2 linked regions of the Homo sapiens genome follow. The protein of the gene in region 1 interacts with the protein of each later gene in a pairwise test. Each region holds a gene or a part of one and is shown in the gene's direction. Other genes may lie near its edges. The genes, in order: RNF14 and PHF7.

What was found.
Region 2: the proteins of RNF14 (region 1) and PHF7 interact in a two-hybrid assay, tested with the Homo sapiens proteins (one large-scale study listed by BioGRID and IntAct).

What each region holds. Positions count from the first base shown.
Region 1 is NC_000005.10:141,971,879-141,975,699, forward strand, and holds part of RNF14 (E3 ubiquitin-protein ligase RNF14), read left to right. Parts: intron 1-1,704; 5' UTR 1,705-1,710; coding exon 1,711-1,864; intron 1,865-2,925; coding exon 2,926-3,077; intron 3,078-3,821. UniProt on the Homo sapiens protein: E3 ubiquitin-protein ligase that plays a key role in the RNF14-RNF25 translation quality control pathway, a pathway that takes place when a ribosome has stalled during translation, and which promotes ubiquitination and degradation of translation factors on stalled ribosomes.
Region 2 is NC_000003.12:52,417,057-52,420,877, forward strand, and holds part of PHF7 (E3 ubiquitin-protein ligase PHF7), read left to right. Parts: intron 1-2,776; coding exon 2,777-2,878; intron 2,879-3,254; coding exon 3,255-3,379; intron 3,380-3,821.

The sequences.
Region 1 (3,821 bases):
CTCAAGTGATCTGCCTGCCTTGGTCTCCCAAAGTGCTGGGATTAAAGACTTGAGCCACTGTGCCTGGGCCTTGTAGCTAAATTCTTAGTATTACCTAAAATAATGGTAAATCTTTCTTAAAATTATTATCTTTTAAATATTCTTGAGTCATAATGGTGAATCTTTAAATTGGTGACTGCTTGGATTTGACAAAATCTATTATTTCAAAAATTTAATATTATTTTGCTGCTTGCTCAGTTATCTAATTTTCTTCCATAATATCTATGCCTGTAACATTCTCAAGCACTGTTTTCTCACCTGGGAGCAATTTTGCCTCCAACCCCCATCCTGCCCCAGGACCTGGCGCTATTTGGAGATATTTTTTTTTTTGAGACAGGGTCCCACTTTGTCACTCAGGCTGGAGTGCAGTGGTGCTATCATGGCTCACTGCAGCCTCGACCTCCCAGGCTCAAGTGATCCTCCCATGTCAGCTCCCCAAGTAGCTGGGACCACAGGCAAGCACCACCACACCTGGCTAGATATTTTCAGTTGTCACAGCTCTTGTGGGTGGAAGCGGGCCACTATTGGGTATCTAGTGGGTAAAAGCCAGGGGATGCTGTTAAGATTCTATAATGCACAACACAGCTCTCCAACAACAATTATTTACTTCAAAATGTCAATAGAGCTGAAGCTAAGAAAACTTGCCCTAAAGATTCCTGTGGATTTAAAAAATTTACTTTTTTGTTTTTTTGAGACAGAGTCTGACTCTGTCGCCCAGGCTGGAGTGCAATGGTGCAATCTCAGCTCACTGCAACCTCTGCCTCCCACGTTCAAGCAGTTCTCCTGCCTCAACCTCCCGAGTAGCTGGGATTACAGGGGTGAGCCACCACACCCAGCTAATTTTTGTATTTTTAGTAGAGATGGGGTTTCACCACGTTGGCCAGGCTGGTCTCGAACTCCTGACTGCAGGTGATTTGCCCGCCTCGGCCTACCAAAGTGTTGGGATTACAGGCACGAGCCACCGCGCCTGGCAAATTAACTTAAGAAAGGAGTGTAATATACTTTGACCACTTTTGCGAACCAGGCACATTGCTAGGTTCAGTGGACAAGTCAAAGTAAATTTGTGATTTGTCCTTTTCAAAGAAAATTTTCAAATTGTGCTTTTTTTCCTCTAATTCAGTCATAAAATATCTAACTGATAAGATCAGGAATTAGAAGTACCACAACCATCCCTTTTGAAAAAGACTGTTAATATTGCAAAACTAATGGAATGCCAGATATGGCTGTCATTTTTGGTTTAGGAGAAAAGTGATAATATCGATTAATTCTTTGCAGTTGTTTTTTGTGCCATTAAGCTTTTTCCACCTCTGTGCATTTTCTTTTCTTTTTTTTTTTTTTGAAACGGAGTTTCACTCTTGTCGCCCAGGCTGGAGTGCAGTGGCGTGATGTTGGCTCACTGCAGTCTCCACCTCCCGGTTCAAGCGATTCTCCTGTCTCAGCCTCCCAAGTAGCTGGGATTACAGGCACCTGCCACCACGCCTGGCTAATTTTTGTATTTTTAGCAGAGATGGGGTTTCACCATGTTGGCCAGGCTAGTCTTGAACTCCTGACCTCAGGTGATCCGCCCGCCTCGGCCTCCCAAAGTGTTGGGATTACAGGTGTGAGCCACCACACCCGGCCAGCCTCTGTGCATTTTCTGTTCTTAACTGATTTTAATGTTTTCAGGTCCTTATGTCGTCAGAAGATCGAGAAGCTCAGGAGGATGAATTGCTGGCCCTGGCAAGTATTTACGATGGAGATGAATTTAGAAAAGCAGAGTCTGTCCAAGGTGGAGAAACCAGGATCTATTTGGATTTGCCACAGAATTTCAAGATATTTGTGAGCGGTTAGTTAATAATTTCTTAAACAGATTTTTCTATTATTCTTTATTTCTTAGTGTACCTTAAACTATTTGTCATTTTGTGTTTTAGGCATTAGTGATAGGTGGTAGTATTACAGAGGTAATGCATGTTTCTGTTTTAAATGAAAATTGCAATGAGGGGCAAGCAGTTTTCAATTTGATTCTACCTTTTTGATCACTGAAGAGGGATATTATCCTGCATATTTCATACATCCTGGTCTGCTAACTAGCAGTTTATCAGCCATGAGTCATTGGCTGTTACATAGCAGTAATCAAAGAGAAAATGAATGTATGTGAAAACGCTTAGAAATTTTCAAGTACAGTGGTGGTGGTTAATACTATTTGGTTTCCAGAATCATTTCAACTACTATAAACATATGACACATGCTATTACTCTGTGACCTTTTGCTTCAGAAAAAACAAAACTGCTGCTTTTGATACAGACATTTACAGAAGACTTTGATGCACACTTTCTCAAAATGTTTCTACTATAAAGGGATTGAGTAAGGAAAGTAAGTGTGGTAATTTAAATGAAACTTTGATTGTGAGAGTGTTGTGTGCTATATTATATCCTCAAACCTGAGATCATTGTGTTGGCACAAATTTTCCCAACTGATTCATGGGTAGTTGGGACATGCTGGTCTAAGTGGGACATGCTGGTCTAAGTAGGTCATGCTGTTCAATGGAAATGAACATCCTTTCTCTAGATTGTGTCTTCAATCATCCACTGTAAACCAAACCACAACAAAACAAACATTGTGTGTTCCTTGGTCATTAGTGTTAGGAATTGTACTCAGAAGTGTATACAAGAATAAGTTGTAGTATTTTCATTATACATTTCATGGTGCTGTAGATTTTTCAAGGGCTTACAAGATTTTTTTTTAAGGTGGTGGCTACGAAGTTAAAATTAAGAAATAGAAAGTGCTTTGGGGGAGGGTTTTTATTCCCTCAACTAAAGCATTAAGTCTTTCTTGAGCGCTGCTCAACAGTAGTGGACACTCAAGTGTTGACCAACTGATCCTTTCTAATCTTTGTTTTTGGTTCAGGCAATTCAAATGAGTGTCTCCAGAATAGTGGCTTTGAATACACCATTTGCTTTCTGCCTCCACTTGTGCTGAACTTTGAACTGCCACCAGATTATCCATCCTCTTCCCCACCTTCATTCACACTTAGTGGCAAATGGCTGTCACCAACTCAGGTTAGACTTGAAACTTAATTTTTCCTATCCATTTTTAGAAACTTAAAAATCACCTTTAATTGAAGACTATCTTAAAGATCTTGAATTCAGTGCATGAAAAACAAATGGCTTTGGTTTTGTAATTTTTTTCCCTTGCCTTGGTGAATCCTGATGTTAAGAAATTGAAAATGTTTGGTGTTTTAAAAAGGAATGGCAGTAATTAAAACAATCATGAATTGTAGTAGGAGTAATTTTTAATCAAGTATATTATTTCTTTTCTTGTCTTGCTATTTTCCTGTTTAATCTGTATTATAATGGAGACTAAGAGGTCTTCCTCATTTTCCTTAGACATTGATACTACTTTTCTCTTAGTTTCTTATCCATTCCTTAAATGAAAGATTCCATTGTAATTAGGACTAAAAATTGAGCTAATGTAGTTATAATAAGCAAATTTTCTGAGTGAATACAATAACTGATTTTCTTTGTAAAAATCTGTATTAATAACAAATAACAGTCAACTGGTATCACGTAGACATAAATGCATACAAGTAGAAATGTGTATAGTTCCTGTAGATATCTCAGTAAGGCTTGAGGCCTTATGTTAAGCACCTCATTTCCTCTGGGTTATATATACTTTTCTAGTAACAACCTCAACTCTTGATTGAGACATAAATATGGCTTGAAGCTAAATATAAATAATATAAAGCATTCTGGGAGAGATAATGAATCAGCAGCTGCTTTTCTAGAAGTCATAATGAAGATCAA
Region 2 (3,821 bases), on another chromosome or scaffold:
TGTTGCAAGAAATCTTTACCTACCCATAGAATTGCCTTGGTGCCTTTGTCAAAATCAATTGACCATATATCTGTGGATCTGGATAATCTATTTATGTCATTGATCTATGTATCTATTCTTACACAAGTCCCCACTGTCTTGATTATTGTGGCTTTATAGTATATTGAAATTCAGTATTGTTAAGTTCTACAATCTTTTCCAAGATTGTTTTGACTATCAGGTCCTTTCTTTATAAAGTTTATATTAAGCTTGTCAATTTTTCTTTAAAAAAAAAGTCTACTGGGATTGTGATTGGGATTGCATTGAATTTATAGGTCAATTTGGGAAGAATTGACAAAAAATATTGAACCTTCCAATCCATGGACATGGTATATTTTTCCACTTATTTGGGTCTTTTAAAATATATCTCAGCAATGTTTTGTTGTTTTGGTGACAAAGTCTTGTACATCTTTTGTTAAATGTATTCCTAAATATTCTGTGGTTATGCTATTGTAAATAGTATTTTTATTTCATTTTTAAGTTTATTGCTGGTATATAGAAATGCATTTTATTTTTGTATATTGATTTGTATCCTGTAATCTTGTTAAATTGAGTTTGATTAGTTGTTTTTTTATTTTGTTGTAAATGCCTTGTTACAGGATTCCCTATGCACATAACCATGTCATGTGTGAATAAAGACAGTTCTACTTCTTTCTCTCAATCTTTGCCTTTTATTTCTTCTTGCCTTGTTGTATTGGCTAGGACCTTTAACCTAACATTGAATAGAAGTGGTGTGAGTTGTTATCCTTGTCTTGTTCCCAACATCAGGGGACAGCATCTAGTTTTTCACTATTAAAGTATGTTAGCTCTAGGTTTTTTTCATAGATGTTTTTATCAGGTTGAAGATCCCTTTTATTCATATATAGTTTGCCCAGAGTATCATGAATGGGTGTTGAATTTTCTCACTTTTCCTGTATTTATTGAGATTATCTTGATTTTTCTCTTTAATTTTGTTAATGTAGTTTGTTACATCAACTAAATGCTCTAATGTTAAACTAGTCTTGCATTCTTGGTATAAACTCTACTTGGTCATGATGTATTGTCCTTTTTATATGGTGCTGGATTCAGTTTGCATCTGTTTTGATTTTTATATCTGTGCTCATGAGAAAGATTGGTCTGTGATTTTCCTTTCTTGTAAGTCCTATCAGGTGTCAGGGCTTAGTTATAATTTTGATGTATTTACAAGCATATACATTTTTTACATAAAAATTAAACATTATACAGAGTGCTTTGTATCTTGGCTTTTTTCCATCATATATATTTTGGAAATCTTTCTGTATAGAACATATAGATATAGTTTTTTCTTTTTAGTAGCTAATTTATTAAATCAATACATGCTTATTGCAGAAAACATGAATGATACTTAAAAATATGAAGAAAACAAATCACTCATCCCAAAGCCCTGAGATAATTAGTTTTAAAATATGTGTTTCAAAAGTTCAATTCCTTCCCCCATAATACAGAACAACAACAATCAAGAGATATTAAAACCCTGTTTTTCTTCCTGTATTACTCTGAGAAGAGTATTTTCTCTGTACTAAGAGGTGATGCAGCAGGAAGGGTAAGAATGGGGATTCCATGGGCCTGGGTGTGAATAGCCAGCTCTGCTCCTCCTTGTCCTATAACCCTGGGAGGCAGTGTCACTTGCCACACTGCACCTCAGCGGCCTCCTCTGTAAGATGAGCATCATAATAGCATCTGCCATTACAGGAATTTTTTTTTTTTTTTTTGAGACGGAGTCTTGCTCTGTCGCCCAGGCTAGAGTGCAGTGGCCTGATCTTGGCTCACTTCAACCTCCGCCTCCCGGGTTCAAGCGATTCTCCTGCCTCAGCCTCCCGAGTAGCTGGGATTACAGGCGCGCACCACCATGCCCTAGTTTTTGTATTTTTAGTAGAGACAGGGTTTCACCATGTTGGCCAGGCTGGTCTCGAACTCCTGACCTCAGATGGTCAGCCCTCCTCGGCTTCCCAAAGTGCTAGGATTACAGGTGTGAGCCACCGTGCCTGGCCAAGGATTGTAAGCATAAAATGAGTAAATACAAAGGAAATGTTTCCCCCAAAGTCCCAGCACACAATAGCAGCCCTCAGTAAGTGAGAGGCAGCCTAGAGCAAAAGTAAGAGTCCAGGTTCCAGAGTTCTGTGGCCTTGAGCAGGTCGCATCATCTCTCCTATAAAATGAGGACAATAATAGTACCTACCTCCTAGGGCTGTTGGGAGGACTCAATGAGTTAATATTTGAAACCACTTAGAGTATTCAACACATGGTTGGTGCCATGTAAGCCTTCATTAAATAAATTACCCTGTCAATGCATATATATTCCACCAAGCTCTGTTCTTTTTTTTTTTCTTTTTTGAGACAGAGTCTTGTTCTGTGGCCCAGGCTGGAGTGCAGTGGCACGATCTCGGCTCACTGCAAGCTCCACCCTCTCGGGTTCACGCCATTCTCCTGCCTCAGCCTCCTGAGTAGCTGGGACTACAGGTGCGTGCCACCACACCCGGCTAATTTTTTTGTATTTTTAGTAGAGATGGGGTTTCACCGTGTTAGCCAGGATGGTCTCCATCTCCTGACCTCGTGATCCGCCCGCCTCGGCCTCCCAAAGTGCCGGGATTACAGGCATGAGCCACCACACCCGGCCCAAGCTCTATTCTTTAGCTCTCTTACCCTGTCCTTCTCCTCACCTCACTGCACTGTTTCACTGATCATCATTGTTAACAGCCTGGTTCTACTGCCCCCGCAGATCTTATCTAGTAAGCTGCCTCAGAGGGGCCAGTCCAACAGAGGCTTCCATGGATTTCTGCCTGAAGACATCAAAAAGGAGGCAGCCCGGGCTTCTAGGAAGGTTAGAATCTCTTGAAATGAGGACCTTGGGGTAGGCCTCTTTTCATACCTCACCCATCATTCCTGTTTCTGTTCTCTTCCCTACTTCCTAGTTTAGATGTCAAAGGACTCTTGGATTTTCCAACTAGTCCTTAAGTCCCATATTCCTCTGGGGTATGGGTGTCCTAAGTGAGAAGAGGGAGAAACATCTTGAGAAAATAGGAAAGAACTCAGTGCTGCTTGAAGCTCAGCTTCCGGGTGCCCCAGAGCATTCAGGACCACTGAAGATAGGGAATGGCTATTATTTCACAAAACTTCCATTTAATAGAAAGATGTGCTACACTGTGTGTGTTTGCATTTCTTGGGGTCCTGAGCACTGTCTGGGAACTCATTTGCAGATCTGCTTTGTGTGCAAGAAAAAGGGAGCTGCTATCAACTGCCAGAAGGATCAGTGCCTCAGAAACTTCCATCTGCCTTGTGGCCAAGAAAGGGGTTGCCTTTCACAATTTTTTGGAGAGTACAAGTGAGTGAGGGAAGGGAAAAGTCTGGCTTCCTTTTTGCAACTTATTATTCAGCCACTAATGAAATCAGAGTCCAGTTCTCACAAGCAGGCCTGTTTTGATTCACCAGTGAATCTGTCCCTCCATTCAGTAATAAGAAACAGTGTCTTGACTTGGAGATTTCACAGGGGGTTCTTCTTGCTTCCTGACCCCTCCTTAAATTACAAACAGCTGGGGTTCTTAGACAGCTGCTCAGCACTAAGTGGGGCTTTCAGGAACGAGAGGCTATGGAGACAGTCCTGGGAACTTTGCTCAGTAGGTGAGCAGCCGTGAGAAGGCATGTGGCAGTTCTTCACTCTGCCTCTCCTCTTCCCCATGTGTGGAGGTTCACTGGGCACCAGCCTGGGTGGCTGGCTGCCCCTCCTAGAGCGGGCCATTGGGAAACTACATCAATGACAAACCAGA